Linked DNA regions of Homo sapiens: all the other regions are linked to region 2. Evidence: fine-mapped expression QTL. A gene starts in region 2. Each other region holds a variant in brackets. All regions are shown on one strand. Distances are from middle to middle. Region 1 has its middle 26 kb from the start of FAM238A. Region 2 holds the start of PDSS1 (decaprenyl diphosphate synthase subunit 1). Region 3 overlaps FAM238B (family with sequence similarity 238 member B).

Evidence for each region. PIP is the estimated chance that this variant, and not a neighbour inherited with it, causes the effect.
Region 1: its variant is the best candidate, but not a certain one, in a credible set for the expression of PDSS1 in whole blood (INTERVAL, PIP 0.88).
Region 3: its variant is the best candidate, but not a certain one, in a credible set for the expression of PDSS1 in whole blood (INTERVAL, PIP 0.56).

Annotation. Positions count from the first base shown.
Region 1 is chr10:26,614,199-26,618,442 of GRCh38, reverse strand. No RefSeq gene overlaps it. Among named protein-coding and RNA genes, the nearest start is that of FAM238A, 26 kb to the right of the region's middle. The variant T/A (reference allele first, on the strand shown) is at 2,296.
Region 2 is chr10:26,695,372-26,699,615 of GRCh38, reverse strand. It overlaps PDSS1 (decaprenyl diphosphate synthase subunit 1), which reads right to left and starts at 1,915. Exons shown (of 12, transcript NM_014317.5): 1 at 1,776-1,915. The coding sequence starts at 1,904. RefSeq lists an enhancer at 860-1,748 and a silencer at 1,623-2,242.
Region 3 is chr10:26,651,382-26,655,625 of GRCh38, reverse strand. FAM238B (family with sequence similarity 238 member B) reads right to left here. Exons shown (of 5, transcript NR_026794.1): 5 at 2,172-2,561. Among named protein-coding and RNA genes, the nearest start is that of FAM238B, 10 kb to the right of the region's middle. The variant G/A (reference allele first, on the strand shown) is at 2,131.

The sequences.
Region 1 (4,244 bases), 81 kb after region 2:
AGCTCACCTCCATTTAAAAGTACATATTTTTGGGCCGGGTGCGGTGGCTCATGCCTGTAATCCCAACACTTTGGGAGGCTGAGGTGGGCGGATCACCTGAGGTCAGGAGTTTGAGACCAGCCTGACCAACATGGTGAAAGCCCATCTCTACTAAAAATACAAAATTATCCAGGCGTTGTGGCACATGCCTGTAATCCCAGCTACGTGGGAGGCTGAGGCAGGAGAATCACTTGAAACTGGGAGGCGGAGTTTGCAATGAGCTGTGATCACACCATTGCACTCCAGCCAGAGCAACAAGAGAGAAACTCCATCTCAAACAATAACAACAACAAAAAACAATATATATATGTGTGTGTGTATATATATATTATATATATATTTATAAATATATTGCAATCCGATTTGCTTTCCATGACTGAAGATCTTTGAAGACAGGATATGTGTCTTACTGTTTTAAGCTTTTTCCATTTCCTAGCCTCTTGAACAGTTCCATGTACTGACCTAAATCAATGTTGGCTAGATCGTGTTGAAATGACAAAGCACCCTTTAAATAACAAAGCATGAAGAAAATAGTGACTTGAGTTTCTTGAAGAACCATACACTTTCTAAGGGATATTAGTGCTGTATATGCAACAAATGAGAACACTAAGAAGGGTGTTTTATCAGCTATGTTTCCTGTTGATCCTGTGAAAGAAAATTATGTTCATAAAGTGGAAAACTGTATTTTTTCAACCTCCTTCTCAACTCCTTTCAAATCAAGAGTATGTCTTGTAGCAGTTTCAAAAGTTAGGCATTATTTTTTCACCACACAAATACTTAACTCACTAAAATATTTGTTTAAAATAATTTTTAGAGTTAATATTATTAGTCTAATTATACATGATTACCTGTGTTTAAAATTCAAATACATGGAGATGTCATTCTTAGAAATCACACTTTGAGGCCAGGTGCTGTCACTCATGCCTGTAATCCCAGCACTTTGGGAGGCCGAGGCAGGTGGATCACCTGAGGTCGGGAGTTCGTGACCAGCTTGACCAACATAGAGAAACCTCGTCTCTTTTGGACCTTGATTTATCTGTGTCAGAAGTAGATGATTTTTATCCTGCTTATAAGTGGCCAAAAGGTAGTGTTTGGATCCATTCCACTGGCTCACTGATATGGGGGCCACCAGGTAAGAGTAGCAACAGCACAACTTCCCTTATGCAAATAGAATTATTTGATGGAAATGCTGTCCTACTAAGGAAATTATTTTTGTGTTAAGTTTTAAATTAGTGCATTGGGAGTTCAACAAGATGTACCTAAAGGAATATGTCATCAGAAGATGTTTATAGATTAGCTGATGTGATTTCTTGCTGTGCTAAAGCTAGAACTTAATTCTTTGAATGGCATTGAGAATACTGGAGCAGCAAAAACAGAAAATTTCTGTGGATTATTGCTAGAGAACTCACTCAGTGCACTTTTGGCAAGAGATTTTGGCAAAATGAAGCAGTACAACGTGTGAATATAAAAGGACAAATAAGCCAGGTGCAGTGGCTCACGCCTATAATCTCAGCATTTTATGAGGCCGAGGCAGGCAGATCACTTGAGCCTAAGAGTTCAAGATCAGCCTGCGCAACATGCGAAACCTTGTCTCTACAAAAATTAGCCAGGCATGGTGACATGTGCTTGTGGTCCCAGCTATTTGGATGGCTAAAGCAGGAGGACTGCTTGAGCCTGGGAGGCAGAGGTTGCAGTGAGCCGAAGTTGTGCCACCACACTGCAGCCTGGGTGACAGAGTGAGACCCTGTCTCAATAAATAAATAAATAAATAAATAAATAAATCAGATAAAAAGAAGGATGAATAGATTATAATTATATCAACATAGCCATAGAACATTGTTGTATGACTACTAGAATGGGAGTAAATCAAGATTCCTTGGGGGTGTTATATGTGCTGCAGAAATCAGGAAGGAATTAAGGAACATTCTGGAAATAAAGCAAGATGTTAAAACAAGTTCAGGGTATGGTATCTGACTAATTAAAAAAAGAAACGGGAACATAAGACCAATTGTTGAATTTCTGTGACTTTCCTGTAAGCTAGATAAGATTAACACTCTCTGGTCGTTTGGGGGTTTTTTGGTAAGGCTGGTTTGGTCAGGAACAATTTTTAAGACAAATAGTAAAGTATCATAGGGTTGGTGTAGGATTGAATTAGGAAATACATGAAAAGTGCTTAACATGTGAACTATTACAATTATTATAACATCAGGTTCTGGTTTGCTGGGTTAGTTATTTCCTTTCTTCTTCAAAGTCCTG[T/A]AGACTAAGAGGCAAAGTAATCAAGCCATTAGGAGGACTTTAAGGGTCACCTGTGACAAACTTGAACATCAATTTCTTTTTCTTTTCATCTTTTATGTTCAGGGGTACATGTGCAGTATGTACCAGTTTGTTACATAGGTAAACATGTGCCATGGCGGTTTACTGCACAGATCATCCCATCACTCAGTTATTTATTTATTTATTAATTTATTTAATGTATTTATTTTGAGACGGAGCTTTGCTCTGTTGCCCAGGCTCTAGTGCAGTGGCTCGATCTCGGCTCACTGCAGCCTCCGCCTCCTGGGTTCAAGCGATCCTCCTGCCTCAGCCTGTCAAGTAGCTGGGATTACAGGCATGCACCACCTCACCTGGCTATTTTTTTTTTTTTATGTATTTTTAGTAGAGATGGGGTTTCACCATGTTGGCCAGGCTGGTTTTGAACTCCTGACCTCAAGTGATCTGTCCACTTCGGCCTCCCAAAGTGCTGGGATTATGTGTGAGAGCCACCGCACCCAGCCCCCATCACCTAGTTATCGAGCTCAGCATCTGTTAGCTATTCTTGCTGATGCTCTCCCTGCCCCCAACTCCCCTACAGTTGCCCAGTGTGTGTTGTTCCCCCCGGTGTGTCCATGTGTTCTCTCTCAGTCAGCTCCAGCTGAAAACTGAGAAGATGCGGTGTTTGGTTTTCCATTCCAGTGTTAGTTTGCTGAAGGTAATGGCTTCCAGCTCCATCCATGTCCCTGTAAAGGACATGATCTTATTCCTTTTTATGGCTGTACATATTGCATGGTGTATATACACCACATTTTCTTTACTCAGTATATAATTGATGGGTATTTAGGTTGATTCCATGACCTTCCTTGTAAATAGTGCTGCAATGAACATACACGTCTATCTCTCTTTACAATAGAATGATTTATATCCCTCTGGGTATATACCCAGTAATGGGGTTGCTGGATCAAATGGTATTTCTACCTCTAGGTTTTTGAGGAATCACCACACTGTCTTCCACAATGGTTGAGCTATTGACACTTTCACCAGCAGTGTAAAAGTGTTCCTTTTTCTCCACAACCTTGCCAGCATCTGTTGTTTTTTGACTGTTTAGTAATAGGCATTCTGATTGTCATGAGATGGTATCTTCTTGATTTGCATTTCTCTAATGATCAGTGATGTTGAGCTCTTTTTCATGTTTGTTGGCTGCATGTATGTCTTCTTTTGAGGAGTGTTGGTTCATATCCTTTGCCCACTTTTTAATGGGATTGTTTGTTTTTTTTCTTGTAAATTTCTTAAGTTCCTTATAGATTCTGGATATTAGACCTTTGTCAGATGGAAAGGTTGCAAAAATTTTTTCTCATTCTGTAAGTTGTTTCTTCACTCTAATGATAATTTCCTTTGCTGTACAGAAGCTCTTCAGTTTAATTAGACCCCATTTGTCAATTTTTGCTTTCATTGAAATTGCTTTTGGAGATTTTGTCATGAAATCTTTGCCCATGGCTATGTTTTGAATGGTATTGCCTATATTTTCTTCTAGGTGAACCTCAGTTTCTTGATCTGTAATGTGAGAGGGCTGATCCACGTCATTCCAGTTGTGAGAAGTGCTATGGCGAAGACATCTGCTTAATTTTATTTAACGCACCAATTTCCAAACATTTGACTGCAGGGTTTTGTTGTTTTGTTTAAGTCATTACTATTAACGTTTTGCTGAACTGTTTCTCAGTTTAGAAACTTCTGAACTAAATGACCCTTTTGGTCTTTTCTAGTGCCCAAATGCAGGGATTCCACGGTTCAAAAAGCCATCTCTCATCTGGATTAAATGCATTTGAAAGCATTTTATGCTGGTACTCACATGCACTGTTGAAGAACCAATACAAGCCTTAAACCCTGTAGAGTTGTTTTTTTTTGTTGTTTTTTGTTTTGTTTTTGAGATGGAGTCTCACTCTGTCACCCAG
Region 2 (4,244 bases):
CCAGACCAGCCTGGGCAACATGGTGAAATGCCGTCTCTACTAAAAATACAAAAATTAGCTGGGGGTCGTGGTGTACGCCTGTAATCCCAGCTACTTGGGAGTCTGCAGCAGGAGAATCGCTTGAACCTGGGAGGTGGAGTTTGCAGTGAGCCGAGATTCCGCCACTGCACTCCAGCCTGGGCGACAGAGTGAGACTCTGTGTCAAAAAAAAAAAAAAAGAAGAAGAAGAAGAAGCATGTAGTGGCATAAGAGGGTGGATGCACCCATCTCTTCAAATACTGGCTTCTTCTGTGGAACTAGAAATATCTGAAGTCTGGAGAGAACAGTCCTGAAATGGATCACAGCAAAGCCTACCTTCCTCCTCTAAGCCTCTTCTCCCACATGCCCCTCACCCCCCATATTCTGTTCTCTTTACTCTCTAGCATTGTCTAGTTGCCCAGCTGCCACTTGGTCTCCAAACGTCTTTTTTGCTTTAGATTTTTTAGAGATAGGGTCTCACACTGTTGCCCAGGCTGGAGTGCACTGGCACTATCACAATAAACAGCTCACTGTAATCTTGAACTCCTGGGATCGAACAATCCTCCTCCCTCAGGCTCCTGAGTAGGTAGAACTACAGGCATGCACCACCCCACCTGGTGAATTTTTTCTATTTTTTATAGAGACAGAGTCTTGCTATGTTGCCTAGGCTGGTCCCAAACTCCTGGCCTCAACCGATTCTCCCACCTCAGCCTCCCAAAGTGCTGGGATTACAGGTGTGAGCCACTGTGCCTGGCCCAAGCCTTGTTTTGGATAATTTGTGATACGCATCTACTTTGGTACAAAGTAGATATTTATAAGTGTTATATATTTCATACTGGGAAATGATGTTTGATGAGAACACGGACACATAAAGTATACCAAATCTGAATTAAAAGAGTACTAAATTCAAATAAACTTAAGTAACAGTGAGTCCATAGATTTTGCACGGTTATGCTAATAGCATGGGCCTACCCCATGGCACACTGAGAATCATTACAAAGCGCAGAAGGGCTCACAGTGTCCATTTACAGGGGCTAAACTGACCAGAAAGGGAGAAAAAGGAGATCGGAACCCAAAGGCAGCAGAGGAGACCCTGAAAGAATGGGCTATCGCTGAGATTCTGACTTTAGATGACTCCAGGGTTTCTCTCCTCCTGACGGCCTCGGGCCTTTCTCCTTCCAGTGTCATTCCAGCCCCATCCAGGTGTGCTCTCCTCCCGAGGCCACTGCTGGACAACTAAGGTCCGGTCCACCCTAGCACCAGCCCTGCATTCTCCACAAGACCTTTTCGGACTATTCCGAGGCCGATTCGATCCTCCGTTTCTCGGAGAGAGCTCTGAGCACTTTGGCTCTAAAATTTCAGGCAAGATCTGTCTTCCTCTAACTCCAAAGTAAATAGCTGCAGTCGCTCTCCAGGCTTAACCTTGTCCATATAGCAGCGGTCAATCTGATCGCTCCTGCGCTTCCCCCAGGACACGGATCCCACCGCTTTCTCCACCCCCCAAAACGCTCCCGGGGTCCCCAGGACACCGCTTTCTGCAACCCCGTGTAGGGCGCCCCTACTTCAGTCCAACGCGCGGCTCCGTCCCACCGCGAGCACCCCTCAGCTCCGGAGTCCCACCCCGGAGCTACCCCGGAGCTACCCCGCGCGCCCCCGCGTCGCGACGCACGTGCTCCCCGCTCCCATTCATTCCGCCCACTGCTGTCATTGGAGCCGTGACCTCTGAGCCCCGCCGGGCGCGCGCCTCCCAACCTCACCTGCGCGCGGACTTCGGCAGCGGCGCTCGGCCCCAACGGTCCCGCACGGCCGGGGGAGCCGGGCCCGGGGCTCCGCGCCGCCGGCTTCCAGGAGCAGCCGCGCCGCCACCGCCACCAGCGCGAGGCCATGGTCGGAGTCTGAAAGTCGCGGCAGGGCGGCGGCTCCGCCTCTGGCCCGCGATCCTCCTCCCGGGACCCGGAGCCGGAAACCTGGCACAGGAAGCGCTTCGGCCAGGCCCGGGAGCGCGGTTCGCTCTTCCTCGCTTGCGGTCCGGCTGCCGGCGCGGACACTTCGGGTGTCTGCCCGTCTGCAGCCAACGGGGACTGCAGCCGCTCCCGGGAGGCGACGGGGCAGGGGCGTGCGGAGACCTGGTCTGGGGACCCCGAGCGTAACCTTCCCCGGGGCGAGCCTCCTATCCCCACCTCTTCCCGGAAGCTGTGCAGGGAGACTGGCCACGCCTGCAGTCATAGCAAAAATGTCCCTGTGGGGACCTTTTATTAGCAAGAAATACTACCGCGCGCCACCCTTGCAGCCACGAACTCTTTTGTTCTGCGTGTTTAGGCAGAAACATAACTCAGAGAATGGGGTTCCCGCTCCGCAGCCTAAGCCGGAGGCGACGGTTTCCGCTGCTGCTTCCCTTGGCAGTGACCTGACACGCCCTGGTCGGCTGCCTTTTGCAATCTGTTCTTGAAGGAAGTTCCAGCCCATCGCATCTTCCTAGAAACAAGTCCGACCACGATCAGGGTTGTTGTGAAATAGTAGCTAAATTAGCCGGGTCTCGTGACTTTTGGACTCTCCCCTCCAAACGCCTTATAGGTATAGTTTGGCAATCTTGCTCACACCTGGGTGTGAACCTGCGTGTACCCAGCCCGGGAGATATTGGAGTCTGTACAGGATTAGTACCCCTTATGGGTTAGAAAGGCCTTCTTTCCTTAGCTCTAAGGCCAGATCTACTGGTGCTAAGAGACAGCGTGTTCCGAACAGAAATTAAGTGATATAAACATTCAGCGCATGCACTCAAACACACAGAGCCAGTGAGATAGGGGGTAAGCATTAGAGATAGAGAAATGCAATTTAGTCCTCAAAAAATTCACTCTAATGAGGAAATAGACCAGCAAGTAGGTAATTGCAGTTCTCTGATTCATGTATTTTCTTGTTCTTGGGTTAAAGAATGCGGTAGCCTCATAGCTGGGTACATTAATTTCATATTTAATCGTGTGGATTTTTTATGGAATGAAGACATCATAGACTATATAAAGACATCTATGAAAATAAGCCAGTTTGATGGTGTTTTTTCCATCTTGAAGAATAGTATGTAAAAATATGCAAAGCTTTATGAGTAAAGATTGTTAATATGCACCTGTAGCTTATCTTGGTTTAGATTAGGTTTATATATTAAGAAACATTCATAAGGTGGAATTTGCCAAGTAGAGTGTAGCAGTAAGCACTTGGGTTGTACTTGATCCTATGACTAAGACATTATCATTTGCCCTTTTTTGTATATAAAGATAAGGAAACATATAGAGGAAATACCGTATGGTCAAATAAGTATCACACTCAAGCTCACCCAGTTGTCAAGTATGTCACTACACAATTTTGTCAGACCATGTTCGTTTAGAGATTGCTTGGCCACATTAAAACAGAAAACATTGCTCTTAAAAAGATGCTGTAGGTCGGGGGCACAGTGGCTCAGCCTGTAATCCCAGCACTGTGGGAGGCCGAGGCAGGTGGATCACTTGAGGTCAGGAGTTTGAGACCAGCCTGGCCAACATGGTGAAACCCGTCTCTACTAAATATTCAAAAATTAGTTGGGCATGGTGGTGCATGTTCTGTAATCCCAACCACTTAGGAGGCTGAGGCAAGAGAATCACTTGAACCTGGGAGGCAGAGGTTGCAGTGAGCCGAGATTGTGCCACTGCACTTCGGCCTAGGTGACAAAGTGAGACTCCGTCTTTAAAAAAAAGAAAAAGAAAAAAAGATGCCGTAGTATTGCAAGGCTAAGTAGGGACAGCAGCTGAAGTTCCTCAAGACTTCCAACGTTACTGTATAGCTAAACTCTTGAGAAAAAACAGTAAGCTACCAATTGGACATACGGAATTCACAAGTAGTTCTTTTGACCCCACTAGGCCAAGCATGAGTTGAGGAAGTTAAAAACACTATCTGAGTTATGCAGGTAAGTGCTAAAGAACAGACTTCTCTTGTGCAGTCTGAAAACAACTTTAGTCTATTTTGCTGCCCTTAGACAAATGAAAAGAGCCAGTACAGATGGATCAAAATGGCCTATGTGTAACTGAAAGCGATCAAGGTTGTCGTTTTGAGGTTGGAGTGTTAGGTACCCTCCAAGACATTTTCTTGCCATATTGATGATACTGTTTAAAACATAATATCTACAATAGGAACAGGTTTTATAGCCAAAGAGATTGTAAATATAGTACCAGGCCAGACACAGTGGGTCATGCCTGTTATCA
Region 3 (4,244 bases), 44 kb after region 2:
TCCAATTTCACCCCAGCTTTTGCGCTCCCCTCACCTCCAGTATCTCACTAAAATTTTCATAAAGGAATAAAGTTTGCTGCATTTTCAGGGTCAATCTAAATAACCCCACTCAGGTATAGCTGGTACTTGTAAAGACCTCACAGCCAGACACCAAAGATTGTGTTCCACTTGAGTGAAAATCACAGGGTTGACGATTGTCATGAGAACCCTCTATTCATGGACTTGCCTGGTTCTATTTGTCAGCGTTTTCTTAACATGAGTGACTCCATTTTGATTCTGACAACTTTCATAGCTCTCTTCGCTGAACCTTTCCTGTATTGTCCCAGAGATCTGCATAAAGACCATTATGTAGTCAGGTATCAGAAAAGCTGTGTCTTTCACATGGACACAAAGAGGGGAACAACATACACTGGGGCCTGTTGTGGGGGATTGAGGGGAGGGAGAGCATCAGGACAAATAGCTAACACATGCTGGGCCTCGTATTTAGGTGATGGGTTGATAGGTTCAGCAAGCCACCATGGCACACGTTTACCTATGTAACAAATCTGCACATTCTGCATATGTATCCTGGAACTTAAAGTAAAACAAAATTTTAAAAATTTTTGTAAAAAGAAAAGCCGTATTATTACTGTATCTGACATCAAAAGAACATGATATACTAAAACTGGAGAGTTACTGTTCCTGAGATAAAATTTAATGTGAAGCAAATTTACCTTCTATCCTATTTCAAGCATATGCTTAAAAAAATTAAGAACACATTGCCAGTTTTAGTTAGTAAATATTTTGGTTTTAAAACTAAATTTGCTTCATTTTAAATTTCCATTTAGCCTGAAGGGGTGTCCAATCTTTTAGCTTCCCTGGGACACACATATGATGCACTAACACTAGCAATAGCTGATCAGCTAAAAAAAAAAAAATTGCAAAAAGATCTCATAATTTTTTAAAGAGAGAGTCTTGCCCTGTCGTCCAGGATTGAGTGCAGTAGCAAGATCTCAGCTCACTGCAGCCTCCACCTCCTGGGTTCAAAGGATTCTCCTCCTCAGCCTCTGGAGTTGCTGGGATTACAGGCATGCGTCACCGCACCTGGCTAATTTTTGTATTTTTAGTACAGATAGGGTTTTGCCATGTTGGCCAAGCTGGTCTCAAACTCCTGACCTCAAGTGATCTGCCAGCCTTGGCCTCCCAATAGTGCTGGGATTACAAGTGTGAGTCACCGCGCCCTACAAAGAGCTTATAATGTTTTAATATTTGTTGGGCAGCATTCAAAGTTGTCCTGGGCCACAGGAGCCCGTGGGTTGAGACAGCATGATCTACAGCTTACTTTTCCCCAAATATTAAAACATACCATTAATTACCTTCCTTAATTTTAAGAAAATAGCCTTTTAGCCCATCCGAAGCCAATTTGAAAGAGAAGAGATATAGGTAAAAAGAGCCTAGGATAAACTGGGCATTAAATGTATCCCTGAGGGAAAACATTCCAGATTGAAATATACATCAGTAAGATTGCTTTTACCTGGCCCTACATTCTTATTTACAGGGTACTTACAGCACTGTAATAATAGAGAATTCAAAAACTATCTGAATAACTATTTTTAAAATTACTGTTATTCAAGCATTAAAAAAGCAAAACCAGGCCGGTCGTGGTGGCTCATGCCTGTAATCCCAGCACTTTGGGAGGCCGAGGCGGGCGGATCACGAGCTCAGGAGATCGAGACCACATCCTGGCTAACACGGTGAAACCCCGTCTCTACTAAAAATAGAAAAAATTAGCCGGGCGTGGTGGCGGGCGCCTGTAGTCTCAGCTACTTGGGAGGCTGAGGCAGAAGAATGGCGTGAACCCAGGAGAAGGAGCTTGCAGTGAGCCGAGATCGCGCCACTGCACTCCAGCTTGGGCAACAGAGCAAGACTCCCTCTCAAAAAAAAAAAAAAAAAAAAGGCGAAACCAAAACAGCCTGTGTCCAGGGCTCCAAGCAATCAAGCAACAGGAATCTCAGAGAAAGAGATTGTCATGTTTTCTCGTTTTCCTCTATTTTCCTGAAAATTCTGAAGGTCGCAGAGGTAGAGCTGAAAATCTAAGGTCACCAAGACTTAAGAAGGCATGGGATGGTGAAAGCTAGTTTTAATTATAGT[G/A]TTGACCTCAAGATCGACTGACCCAATAATCCTTATAGAAATGCAGTAGGAAGAACGTTTAACTTTTATTCATTTGCTGCTTGTGAACATTGATGCTTCGTGCCTGTTGGGGGGGTGGGGCATAGGAGGCCTCTTGGCGACAGCGAGGGGAGGGAGCACGAAGTCCAGGGGGGTCTCCATGAAGTCCGGGGACGGCAGCGGGAGCTCTGGGTACTCCAGGGGCGGCATTGGTGGCTGTGGCGGCAGGAAGTAGTCGGGCGGGGCGGGGAAGACCACGCTGCCTGTGCCCTTGGCCTTGGGGGGTGTGGCGGGGCTGCCACTGGTGTCACAGGACCTCTGCACCGGAGGGGGTGGGGCAGGCTGGACTTGGGGCCTTGGGGGGCCGGGGGTGCTCCTGGCTCCTGGTGGTTCCCGAGGGCTGGCTTCTTATCCTGCAACCAAGCGACAGCAGCATTTATTATTTTAAAGTTTTTGAAATTTTAATTTATTGTTATTAATTAACGGGGACAGGGTCTCACTCTGTCACCCAGGCTGAGTGCATGGCACGATCTGGGCTCACCACAACCTCGACCTCCTGAGCGATCCTCCCGCCTCAGTCTCCTGAGTAGCATTCTTTATTCTTGACAAAAGAGCCCCAGTGGACAAGACCATGCCATAGATATGTGAGGTCTCTGTCTGCTGCCTGGGGGGCCCCCGTCCCTCAGTCACTGAGAACCCTGGTTGTTCATGAGCTCATCTTTGCTCTGGAATAGGGAAATGACTCTAATTGGCCTTTATTATTATTATTATTATTATTATTATTATTATTACTATTATTATTGAGAGAGAGTTTTGCTCTGTCGCCCAGGCTGGAGTGCAGTAGCGCCATCTTGGCTCTCTGCAACCTCTGCCTCCCGGGTTTAAGCGATTCTCCTGCCTCAGCCTCCCGAGTAGCTGGGACTACAGGTGCTGGCTACCACGTCCAGCTAAGTTTGTATTTTTAGTGGAGATGGGGTTTCACCATGTTGGTCAGGCTGGTCTTGAGCTCCTGACCTCATGATCTGCCCTGCCTCTGCCTCCCAAAGTGCTGGGATTACAGGCATGAGCCACCGCGCCTGGTCTTTTTTTTTTTTTTTTTTTTTGTGACGGGATCTCGCTGTGTCACCCACGCTGGAGTGCAGTGGTGCAAGCTCGACTCACTGCAACCTCTGCCTCTAGGGCTCAGTGATCCTCATGCCTCAGCCTCCCAAGTGGCTGGGATGACAAGCATGTGCCACCATGCCCAGCTAATTTTTGTATTTTTTGTAGGGATGGTTTTTTGCCATGTTGCCCAGGCTGGTCTCCAACTCCTGGGCTCAAGTGATCTGCCCACCTCGGCCTCCCAAAATGCTGGAATTACAGGTGTGAGCCGCCTCACCTGGACAGTTTACTTTTTCTCAACTGCATGAAAGTTGGCTGGTTCACCGGGTATAAAATGAGCCCTGTAGTCCCTATTATGACCTGTGTCTCAGATCGTGATGAGATCAAATGAGATACTTATATGAGTTCTGAAAAGAAAAATCACCAGCGTGCTACTGGTAGAAACCAGAATGCCAAATTTGGCTAAAGTCTAATAGAGACATAGCCCTTCCTCTGCCAATACTGGCATAGATAATAATAATTTGTATTTATATAATGAAACATCCCCAGGCAGCTGGATTGAATCCCTCTGTTTTAGTGATAATTATCATTCCAATTTACATTTCATCAGGGCTCCAGTTTATTTCTTCCTCTGCTTAATAGCCTGTTACCACTGAAGATTAAATTTGGAAGATTTTTTTTCTAACGAAGTGCCTTCTGACTTAGTTTCTATTTTATTTAGTTTATTTACTTAGCATGATAAGCTAATTAACTGGCAATGTACTTTTTCCTTTTTAAAAAATTTCTGAACAGGCAGCTTGGGTATTGATGTTCACATATAGTTAAGTGATTTCTATTCTGGGATTCTTTTATTTCTTTCAGCATTTTTAAATGCTTTCCTTCGATTGGCATTATGGAAATAATGAAAATAATAACAGCTGAAAGTACATTGCGTGAGAAGCGCAGGCTTGAGAAGATAATGAGAACATTAAAGAAATACAACTTTTACAGGCCTG